Homo sapiens: one gene and its partners. The protein of the gene in region 1 purifies or fractionates together with the protein of each later gene. This does not show direct contact. Each region holds a gene or a part of one and is shown on either strand. Other genes may lie near its edges.

Region 1 (3,653 bases):
TTCAGATACCTTTTTCGAGCCTATATCGTGGCACCTGGCTACCAAAGTACTGGGAATACTCTGCTGTGGCCTATTTTTTGGCATTGTTGGACTGAAGATTTTCTTCTCCAAATTCCAGTGTAAGCGAGAGAGAGAAGCATGGGCCGGTGCCTTATTCATGGTTCCAGCAGGGACAGGATCAGAGATGCTCCCACATCCAGCTGCTTCTCTTCTTCTAGTCCTAGCCTCCAGGGGCCCAGGCCCAAAAAAGTAATCATCCTTCTCTAGGGTATTCTAACATCTCTTCCTCTGGAAATATCAACTACGACAGCCCCTTGCTACTTCATTTAGGTCAAATAATAAGGGGATGAATGATTTTCAGTACCTATAGAGAGAGCTTGGATAATTTTCCATGAACACCACCAAGACTCCTATTAAAAAGTTTTAATGTGGTGAACAAATTCATAAAGGAGGAAGCAAAAGTGACTGACAATAAGATAAAATTATATTCAGTCTCAATAAGACTTTTCACCCCCAAAACCAATTTCCTCCTCCTTGGGAGTGACACTTCCCCTTGGGGGTGAGGCCACCCCCGCCTCCCCTCCCAGCTGCCTTCTCCCATCTCCATCCCCACCTCCACAGCATCCCAGCTGTTGTCCCTCTCCTTAGCATGCACCTTCCTGATCTCTTGCTCCACCCCAGAGAGCCACACTCCGTGCAGGAGCTGGGGAGACGAGCACATATAAGTGTCCTAGGAGAGGCCCTGCCCTTCACACCTGCAGCTCGTCCCACCTGTGCAAGGAGCCAGCGTCGTGTTTGTGCCTTGTACACTCCTGTGTCCACCACTGAATATACTGTTTCTGTTTCAGGGAAAATCCAGGCGGAACTGGGTAAGTATGTGTCATGTCCTGAGCCTCCCACACATGGTTCTCCCGGGTCCCTCCCTGATCCACAGTTTGAGCCTCTGGACGACCCTGGCTGCAGGCTGGACAGGAAGCACCGGCAGGTGGAGGAGAGCAGCTGCTCGCTCTCTCCATCCACTGCTCATGAGTTACCCCTCGGACATCTGGAGGGCTTAGGATAGGCCCCGGGGCCTGGAAGTCCCCACAAATTGTCTGTGCCTGTTGCCCGTTGGTTTGCTGTGTGTGTGGTGGGGGAAGGTGTTGATCATGAGCTCTGAGGGTGTCTGGGCCACAGTGAGGAACCTGAGAAAAATTTGTGGGTGATCCTCGACCTCCCCTGGCCTGATGCTTTGAGACTTTATCCAGTTCTGTATCAACCACTAAATAGTCTGCTTTTTGTTTTGTGGGAACTCCAGGATAAACTGGGTGAGAGTGTTACCACTCGCAGGGATTCCCTCCCACGCCCTCCCTGGGCCCCCGCTCTGTGACGTCAGCCTCTTACATGTTTTTTGTTTTTGTTTTTGTTTTTCAGACTGGAGAAGAAAGCACGGACAGGCAGGTAAAAGAAAATATTCCTCTTCACACATTTATGACTCCTTTCCAAGTCTCTCGTTTATGGATTTTTATATCCTGAGGCCCGTGGGTCCCTGCAGAGCCAAGCTTGTGATGGGAACTCTGAAATTGCAGATTCTGGGGGAGGTGCATTTTGTAGAGAAGCCCCATAGCCTTCTTCGGATCTCTGGAGGGTCCACAACACTCAAAAAGGGTCCCAATCCTTGGTCTTTCCCTTCTCCCTGCGCCCTGTTTCCCACGTGAGCACTGAACTGCCTGCTCTGTCTGCTTGCTTTCAGAATTGAGAGACGCCCGGAAACACGCAGGTACCAACGCCTGAGAGGGTGACAGTGGGACAGAATCTCAGGTGGACATGAGAGGGGGAACTGAACAGGGACAGATACGGGAACACAGAGTGATGCTGAGACCCATCCTGCCTGCAGATGGAGAAACTGGATGCTTGATCGCCCCCAAGGGTTCAGTGCCCCCAGACACACTTCTTTCCCTTGGTCTAGAAGGGGAGAAGACAGGGGCTGGGTAAACGGGAGACGGGGGGGTCTTTGGCACAGTTTCAGGGAATTGAGGGCACTAGTGACTGGTCAGGGGTCTGAGCTGAGGGGAAGGAAGTAAAGTCAGGCAGAAAATTCTGAGTGGGAGGAAGTTAGATAGTGGGGTCCCTCCAGCTCTTATGAATCAAATAGTTTTATGTATGAAGGGACAGTGGCAGGGTTGGGTGATATGCCGAGATTGGGACGTCATATTGAGACATATCTAGACATTGATGAGTCCTCCAGGCTGCACTGGTGATGAGAGGACCTGAAAGGCAGTGTCTGCGGGAGGCTCAGGTCCGGGGCCTCACCTATGCCACCCAGAGCCAGTCTGCAGTGGGAGGGTCGACCTCTTGCTCCAGCCCAGATTTCGTCTTCAGTAACTCATGCTTCCTCTCTCCCCCACCGCACCCCAGTGGAGGTGACTCTGGATCCAGAGACGGCTCACCCGAAGCTCTGCGTTTCTGATCTGAAAACTGTAACCCATAGAAAAGCTCCCCAGGAGGTGCCTCACTCTGAGAAGAGATTTACAAGGAAGAGTGTGGTGGCTTCTCAGAGTTTCCAAGCAGGGAAACATTACTGGGAGGTGGACGGAGGACACAATAAAAGGTGGCGCGTGGGAGTGTGCCGGGATGATGTGGACAGGAGGAAGGAGTACGTGACTTTGTCTCCCGATCATGGGTACTGGGTCCTCAGACTGAATGGAGAACATTTGTATTTCACATTAAATCCCCGTTTTATCAGCGTCTTCCCCAGGACCCCACCTACAAAAATAGGGGTCTTCCTGGACTATGAGTGTGGGACCATCTCCTTCTTCAACATAAATGACCAGTCCCTTATTTATACCCTGACATGTCGGTTTGAAGGCTTATTGAGGCCCTACATTGAGTATCCGTCCTATAATGAGCAAAATGGAACTCCCATAGTCATCTGCCCAGTCACCCAGGAATCAGAGAAAGAGGCCTCTTGGCAAAGGGCCTCTGCAATCCCAGAGACAAGCAACAGTGAGTCCTCCTCACAGGCAACCACGCCCTTCCTCCCCAGGGGTGAAATGTAGGATGAATCACATCCCACATTCTTCTTTAGGGATATTAAGGTCTCTCTCCCAGATCCAAAGTCCCGCAGCAGCCGGCCAAGGTGGCTTCCAGATGAAGGGGGACTGGCCTGTCCACATGGGAGTCAGGTGTCATGGCTGCCCTGAGCTGGGAGGGAAGAAGGCTGACATTACATTTAGTTTGCTCTCACTCCATCTGGCTAAGTGATCTTGAAATACCACCTCTCAGGTGAAGAACCGTCAGGAATTCCCATCTCACAGGCTGTGGTGTAGATTAAGTAGACAAGGAATGTGAATAATGCTTAGATCTTATTGATGACAGAGTGTATCCTAATGGTTTGTTCATTATATTACACTTTCAGTAAGGTCTTTGCTTGTTTATTTCACATGAATTTATTGTTCCCTACTTCAAATCACCCATGAAACAGGCACCTGCTCTGTGCCAGAGCCAGAGGGAAGGTGGCACTTCCATTGCATTCTATAGAGCCCGCATTACTTTCATACCAAAACCAGACAAGGACATTACAAGAAAAGAAAGGAAAACTACACGTCCATATCCCCCATGAACTTAGACACAAATATTCTAATTAAAATTTTAGCAAACTGAATCCAGCAATA
Region 2 (3,653 bases), on another chromosome or scaffold:
AATTAGCTGGGCATGGTGATGCATGCCTGTAGTCCCAGTTACTCTAGAGGCTGAGGCACAAGAATCACCTGAACCCGGGAGGCGGAGGCTGCACTGAGCCAAGATCGAGCCACTGAGCTCTAACCTGGGCGACAGAGTGAGACTGTCTCAAAAAATATATGTATCTCTTCCAGCCATATTTTGTGGTTTTCCAAAGATAGACTGAACATTTTAAAGTGGAGAAAAAAAGAACTGGTTCATGATAGGAACCATAACTATTCTTGATTTACCTAATTCACATTGAAGGCACATGGAAAGCCATGAGGCACAGGTAATTTATGTATTGTGCATGCTATATGAAGACATTGATTTGTCTTAAAAGATTATTTCACTGTCCAGGTTTTTTAGCAGAGAACATCAGACTTCTTGGTTTTAGGGTTTGATTTTCACTTTTATGTTTAAGATGGTTTCAATAAATACTTAGAAGTCATTAATAGTTAAATGACAGTTTCAACTACTTATAAAAACCTTGTCTCTTTCCACTAGCCCCTCCCCTGATTGGGAATTTTCCATATGTAGAGCTATTTTTTGGTTTGGGGCAGCATCCAGTAAGCTGACTGCCTAAATATACATCATTAATTTCAGGCCTTTGGCTTTCTTCTCTCCTCTGGGATTAGACAAAAAGGATACCGCAACATATTCTTATAAATTTGCCATAAACCTTTTATGACACTAATGGAGACGTCATAGTGGGCTCAAAGTGGATTTGGTATTATATCGTATACTAATGCTTCCTACCTGTGGCAATTTCAAGAACATCTAGTTAAATTTATTTTCTTAGGTTACATTATGCTAATCAATGGTGGTTAGTTGTTATTACTGGGGAGAGGTTTGTATACATAATATATCCAAATTTAAAATAATTCAAAAATCTAGGTCCCTTATGTAATTCCTACCCCAAAAATGTCAGGGTGATTAATGAAATTCAACTCCTGGGTTGCATTTTAGGTAAACAATTAGAAAGTTACTGCTATTTATTATGGTAGTCATAGGTCTCCTTCCCACCCTTAGTACCAGGAAAATTGACAGAAAGGCTGTGCCTTTGATGAGGCAAAGGAAATAGAGGATGTATCCATCACATAGCCAGTCCTTTGACTTCCTTCCAAGGCTAAACACGTCCCAAATGAGAGCCAGGAAGGACAGAGGCATGAGTCAACTTTTCTCCCCAGGAATACTCCCTTCAGGGAGAAAAAATTTAAAAGCAGCAGGAAGGGAAAAGGAAGCTAAAGTCTGTGCAATGTTAGTAATTGATTACCTCTTTTTTTCTTTTCCTTTTTTTTTCTGAGACGGAGTCTTACTCTGCCCTCAGGCTGGAGTGCAGTGGCACGATCTCAGCCCACTGCAACTTCCACCTCCTGGGTTCAAGCGGTCCTCCTGCCTCAGCCTCCCAAGTAGCTGGGACTACAGGCGTGTGCCACCACACTCAGCTCATTTTTGTAGTTTTAGTAGAGATGGGGTTTTACCATGTTGGCCAAGATGGTCTCAATCTCTTGACCTCGTGATCTGCCCACCTCAGCCTCCCAAAGTGGTGGGATTACAGGTGTGAGCCACCACATCAGCCGATTACCTCTTAATTATGTCTTTTTCTTCCCTTAATCAGAAATATTCACTTGAGGCCATGTGCTAGTCAACAACTTTGCTGAGTCTGATGCAAATTATAATAATCAGACATGTCAGTGCTGTGCGTCTTGTCTCTGAAGTAAATGTTCTTTACTAAGGCAGGCCCGTCAATGCTGCTTGGTTGAATTTATCCCTCAAGAGTCTTGAGGCTTTCAGAGTTCATCCATGCATCTTGGTAGACCTGGGTTCTGGCGCCAATTCTGTCTCTCAAATAGGAATATGGATATCTTGTGATTCATGATTCTATAACATTTTTCCCTGATCCTCATCCTCTAGCAAAAAGAATGCCATTCAAAGAAGCCTTTTTAACTTCATAGCAAGATCCCAGGACCTACAGAGAAGAAACTGCCTTAGAGGCAGGCGACTAGATTCTCTTATTACAGTTGATTGAAAGCTGCAGGCCAAATTCAGGAATCAGACATGTAACTTTCTTCATTTTTCTAGAAATGAATTCCATTTAGCTTTCAAAGCCTCCATTTCCACCATGGTAGAAAATGATGATCTTGCAATCACTTCTATGTTTAGATTTAGTCTTATTTAGGTAAGTATTTATTCAGATTCAAGACCCCTCAGCCAGCCGTGGTAGCATGCACCTGTAGTCCCAGCTACGCAGGCAGCTGAGGCAGGAGAACTGCTTGAACCCAGGAGGCAGAGGTTGCAGTGAGCCGATATCGCGCCACTGCACTCCAGCCTGGGCAACAGGGCGAGACTCCATCTCAGAAAAAAGACTCTTTTTCTCCACCCTGTGTAGCTACCCTCCCAAGGAATGAAATAGAAAGGGGTTTACCTGTTGTCCAGCGACTGGGAAGAGATATCTGGCTCACACCCATCATCTGCTATTATTGGCTTCAGACTAAAGGGTAGCTCAGTCCCTTGTGGCCTTTGGGGCATTGCTCAAGCTTCTGTGGCTCGTTCCATTGTCTGTGTAGTGACCTCTGCTCAAAATTTCCCTGTGTCCTGGGCCCTCTTCGTCCTCTGTTAGCCTCTTTCAGTCCCCTTTTAGCAAATGCTTCTGAGCCACTGTTAGGACTCAGACACGCACAGGCTGGGTATTCAGGTTTCTGTGATTGCCCTCAGGCTTATCTACCTAGATTTTCCTTAGCTGTTGCCAGTTTCCACCCAGGCATCTCATTGCTCCAGCCCCTGATTGAGCTGCAGTCTTGTGATGTTTTGCCTGGGAAGTAACAAAAGCCCTCTTTCCCCTAAAGGTAGTTGGATGGCATGCTTTCTAAACCCTATAGTTCAGTCAGTAAATGCTACGTTCTAGGCCTCCATGACTTGTTTTGTGATTTTTCCAAACCAGTGCTTTTTGGAACTTAAAAAGATAAACAATTTCTTTCACTCTGGGGTCCTGCTTTTTCAAATCAAAAGCACTTTGCCTTTCAAATTATGAAGTAAATACACCTGAGAGCGATAACATCAGCATACCCCAAAATGACCCTGGGTGGCACACACACCCCAATGTGGCTGGGAAATCTGAGCTACGGAATCTGGGAGTGGCCAGCCCAGAGATCCATTCCTTGTCTATGAGGAAGACCTGACACCCAGGTCGGTCCCGTGGAACACGGGCCGTAGAGGGGATTGAGGCCCTTTGTTTTTGGATTAAATGAAGGTTGCCAGGTGGAGGTTGTCAGTGGGAGAGTACTAAGTGAAGATGCTTTATAAACTGCATGCCTTTTGCAAGCGGTTGCAGTTCTCTTGCCCAGCCCTCTACCCCCGGACTCTCTGCCCTGTACGTAGGTCCTCAATGAAACCTCATGTCTCACTTGCTGGCTGTTTTTCAGCCTCTTGAACATGCTGCCATCCCCAATGGAGTTGATAAGGGTTTGCACAACACAGATTACTGTGCCTTCTGAGCTTCACAATCTATTCAACAAATTGACTTCCTCCCTCTGAAATCTATCTCATCATCCTTTATAAACAGGGGTTCGCAACCTTGGTTGCATATTAAAATCACGTGGAAAGCTTTAAAAAATCCGAATGTTCAGGCCACC
Region 3 (3,653 bases), on another chromosome or scaffold:
GGGGCACAGACCAGGAGCCGATCCTAGAGAAGATGCATGTTTATAACTGGTCTATTGTTCACCTCATTCTACCAACAGATTTGTTCTGTCTTGCTAAGGAGGGTATCAGGAAGGAGAGGTGGGAATCTTTAAAAAAAAAAAAAAAAACTATACTTTAAAACTCTCCCTAAATATCTCTATAAATCAAAAGACAAAAAAAACAAAAAAAAAAACTCAAAACAAGAAACAGCTTGTACATCAACACTAAGGCCCTTCAGTCTCAAATCACAACTAGCACCATCTGCAAGATGTTTACACTCCTATAACTTAAGTCCTCAAATACAATTCCAAGTTATTTTTACTAACTTCTAGTCAGTTCTTTCATAAAAGAATCAGAATCTTCCAATTTTTCCTATGGGTGCTGTGATGATCGAACAATGTTATTTGAAAAAAAAAAAAAAAAACCCTTGCGGAAGTACAAGCTACTAGATAATAAAGGGGCATTATTTACAGTACCCCAGGTGTTTCTGGAGGGTTCTTAACAATTTTAAGTCATTCTGTTAATGATCATCCTCTCTATAGAATATGATGCCTTTACAGAACTAATTATTCCATTGACAAATGCTAATTTTCCTCACTATTTCCCATCCCCCAAACTAGAGATCTACAGAAAGCCTAAGGGCAAAATACTTACCTGCTTTTGATTTTCCCATGAAATAATGCATGCCACAATGTGCTATCACTTCAAAACCCAGACTCCCTTCCTAGATTGAAAAGTAATATATGAATAACTTAAAACACAGCACTAAACATAAAAATTCTAATGCACTAAAATTCAAAGCAGACATTGGTCTGCACCTCAGTGAACTTCCCTTTAACCACGAGCCAAAAATTACTTTCTAATTGTTAAGGAATTTTCAGAGAAATCTGAACTGTCTCTCCCTAGGAGGGTCACTGAGTGGCTTCTGCAGGCACAATAATCAATGACAATAATGACCCTTGGGCCCACAAGACACCAAACTGCCATCTGAATTAAATAAAGATTATGATCACATGGCTGCACTGAAGCCTGGGCAACAGAGTGAGACCCTAACTGTAAAAAAAATTAAAAATTAAAAAAAAAAGATTAGATTAGTCTCAGGACATTCTCAGTGGTCAGAAGTTTTGTTTTTTTTTAATTGAACTCTAATCCTCTGGGAAACAGTATGCCAATCTATAACAACTCCTAGCTATTCAGGACATTTAATTTCCCATTTCCTACAGGTATACCTGAAACCTGCCTGCTCCTCCCACACTCTGCTGACATGCATCTCTTGAATAGAAAAAAAATTTCTAAGAAACCACCCCTGCTCAAAATATGGATAAATGGAATTAACCTTACATTGTTTAATTTTAGAATTCCTATCTGTACGCTTACAGCTAGTTAAGCATGAGGCATTTCTAACTATGAAAGATCCACACTATAAGTGAGAAAAAAAATAAAGATGGTTGCATGAATGTTGCATAGAAAAACCAGAACCCAGAGTTATACAAAATAGCTTGGAGCAAAAAGAAGCAAAAATAATAACCAAATGAAAAGAAATAAATATTAAAGAAAGAGACATATTTAAGACGGTCTAAATTAAATATAATTTACCCAGATTTTAGAAAGCATTTTCTTAACTGTGAATCTTTTCAGGCTTTATACTTGGCCCACTAAGCAAATTCAAGGATTACGAGCAACTAAGAGTCACTTAGAAGAGATCCAAATAAAGCATTTAACAATTTAATTTATTAAGTCATTGCAAGTATGTACTAAAAGCCAACCTGTGTTTTCTATAGCAAACACATACTGGTTGCTCTACAAATTTTGGAAATAAATGAAAATGACATCTATTAATCTATTGGTCATGCCTTATTTCATTCAAGAACTTCAAATTACTTTATAAAAAAGAAAACTCTTTCCAAATAAAGATTTTTATGTCTGAACAATTTATCATCCAAGACTGGCCTGGTAATATCCTTCAGTTTCTTAGCCTTAAAGAACGTGAGCTTAACCCAGTTAATAAAACTCAAGCACTAAAGGTTAATAAAAAGCAACAGTAATTAAGAAAACTGTAACACACATATAGTATTGTAGAAAATACCTTGGTTGGTGCTGAATAAATCTGTAGAGGTATTGCAAAAATGGCACCTATGTTTGTAGTCAAAAATACATTGGTGAATAGATTTATGGCAATGTCTTTAACAGCAAGTTTCAAAGAAAATATATTCCAACAGCCTGGAGGTAGAAATAAAGGGCCAGTGAAATTCAGAATCTAAAAAGAAAAGAAGCAAGAGAAATTACTTTTCCTAACACTAATTATGATTAAAATCATTATAAAGTATGATGCTAACATTCTTCTATACTTCAGAAAGTATGATTTTACTCAGTTATTTCCAGATCAAAAGTTGGAATATTTTTATAGAAATGATAGGTTACAAATAATGCTTAAGATGACACTGTTTTAAATTTCACAAAAGTAATCTTGAAATTTCAGTAAGTGATATTTTGCAAAAAACCTACTATTTTATCATGAACCAGGCTCATTTTTACTAATCTTTTTAGAACAATACATATACATAATATTTTTGAATAATGGTAAGAGCAAATAATTTTGAAAGGCTATATCCTGGTCCCTTTGAGCTCTTTTAAAAACAGTTTTTTAAAAAGAGAGAAAGAGAAGTCTCCTAAAAGTAATTCTGAAAATGTTAAAAGAAAAATACATGTTTTAAAAATCATAAAATTTTATATAAATAATAACTTCATAGCATTTGGAATATTTTTTATTATTTTATAGAAATAATTTCACAGCATCTGACCTTAAACAAAGCTTAAAATAAGCTAAAACTTGGGGAAAAAATACTATATGTACCTTTAACATGTGCTTGGTCTCCTTGGAAAGAAACACATCATTTAATACAACACTACGGTCAAAATGGTTGCGGTACCATATTGACCAAAGTCCTGATGTGTTCTCATGAGTCTCTATGTGAAACTGGGTTGCAGAAGAGTCCATTCTAAAATACCTGTGAACAGACGACATGCATGCTATCAGGCCTGAGTGTGGGACAACAGTCAGCCCTCTTATGAGCCTCTAATTGCAAAAACAGGAGCATCATAAAACGTTACTAAATGAAAGCTAGCGCCAGAGACAACCTCGGCAATCGCCTCCTTCAACCTTCTGGCTCACATAGGGAGCAACTGGAAGCCCGAGGGGAAGCAACCAGGCTGCGGCCAGCACAGCTCACAGAGGCCGCCAGGACCAAACCAGAACCTGAAGCCAACTCAGAAACACCATGTGAATATGTACTCTTTTCACACATCTGGATGCCTGATGCTGAACCTATTTCATAAACTGAATTATTTCACTTCCTTTTCCCCACTCAGCTAATATCCCTTTCACTGCCTGTTAGCAATGCTAAGGCAAGGGGAGGCAAGGCCAGTGAGAGAGAGAATCACACAAATCATATCACTATATTTTTAAACCATTTCTAGAGGGGAAAACAACAACAACAACCATACAAGATTTCAGGGAAAGTGGAAGTAACCTACCCCTGAGCCACAGAAGAGAAGAGGCATGCTTTTAGTGTTGGAGTGTGTGTTGTTTTCTTCACATCTTCTATAATTCCACTGTCACATGATGTAGCTGCTT

Evidence for each region.
Region 2: the proteins of BTNL8 (region 1) and ITGA8 purify together in Homo sapiens (affinity purification with mass spectrometry; 3 studies listed by BioGRID and IntAct, with this or other methods). This does not show direct contact.
Region 3: the proteins of BTNL8 (region 1) and TMEM131L purify together in Homo sapiens (affinity purification with mass spectrometry; 3 studies listed by BioGRID and IntAct, with this or other methods). This does not show direct contact.

Annotation. Positions count from the first base shown.
Region 1 is NC_000005.10:180,947,507-180,951,159, forward strand, and holds the end of BTNL8 (butyrophilin-like protein 8 isoform 2 precursor), read left to right. Parts: intron 1-5; coding exon 6-119; coding exon of another isoform or gene 120-249; intron 250-848; coding exon 849-869; intron 870-1,413; coding exon 1,414-1,440; intron 1,441-1,732; coding exon 1,733-1,759; intron 1,760-2,397; coding exon 2,398-3,038; 3' UTR 3,039-3,400; downstream 3,401-3,653.
Region 2 is NC_000010.11:15,639,796-15,643,448, reverse strand, and holds part of ITGA8 (integrin alpha-8 isoform 1 preproprotein), read left to right. Parts: intron 1-3,653. UniProt on the Homo sapiens protein: Integrin alpha-8/beta-1 functions in the genesis of kidney and probably of other organs by regulating the recruitment of mesenchymal cells into epithelial structures.
Region 3 is NC_000004.12:153,584,832-153,588,484, reverse strand, and holds part of TMEM131L (transmembrane protein 131-like isoform 1 precursor), read right to left. Parts: intron 3,651-3,653; coding exon 3,554-3,650; intron 3,028-3,553; coding exon 2,874-3,027; intron 2,277-2,873; coding exon 2,106-2,276; intron 744-2,105; coding exon 674-743; intron 1-673.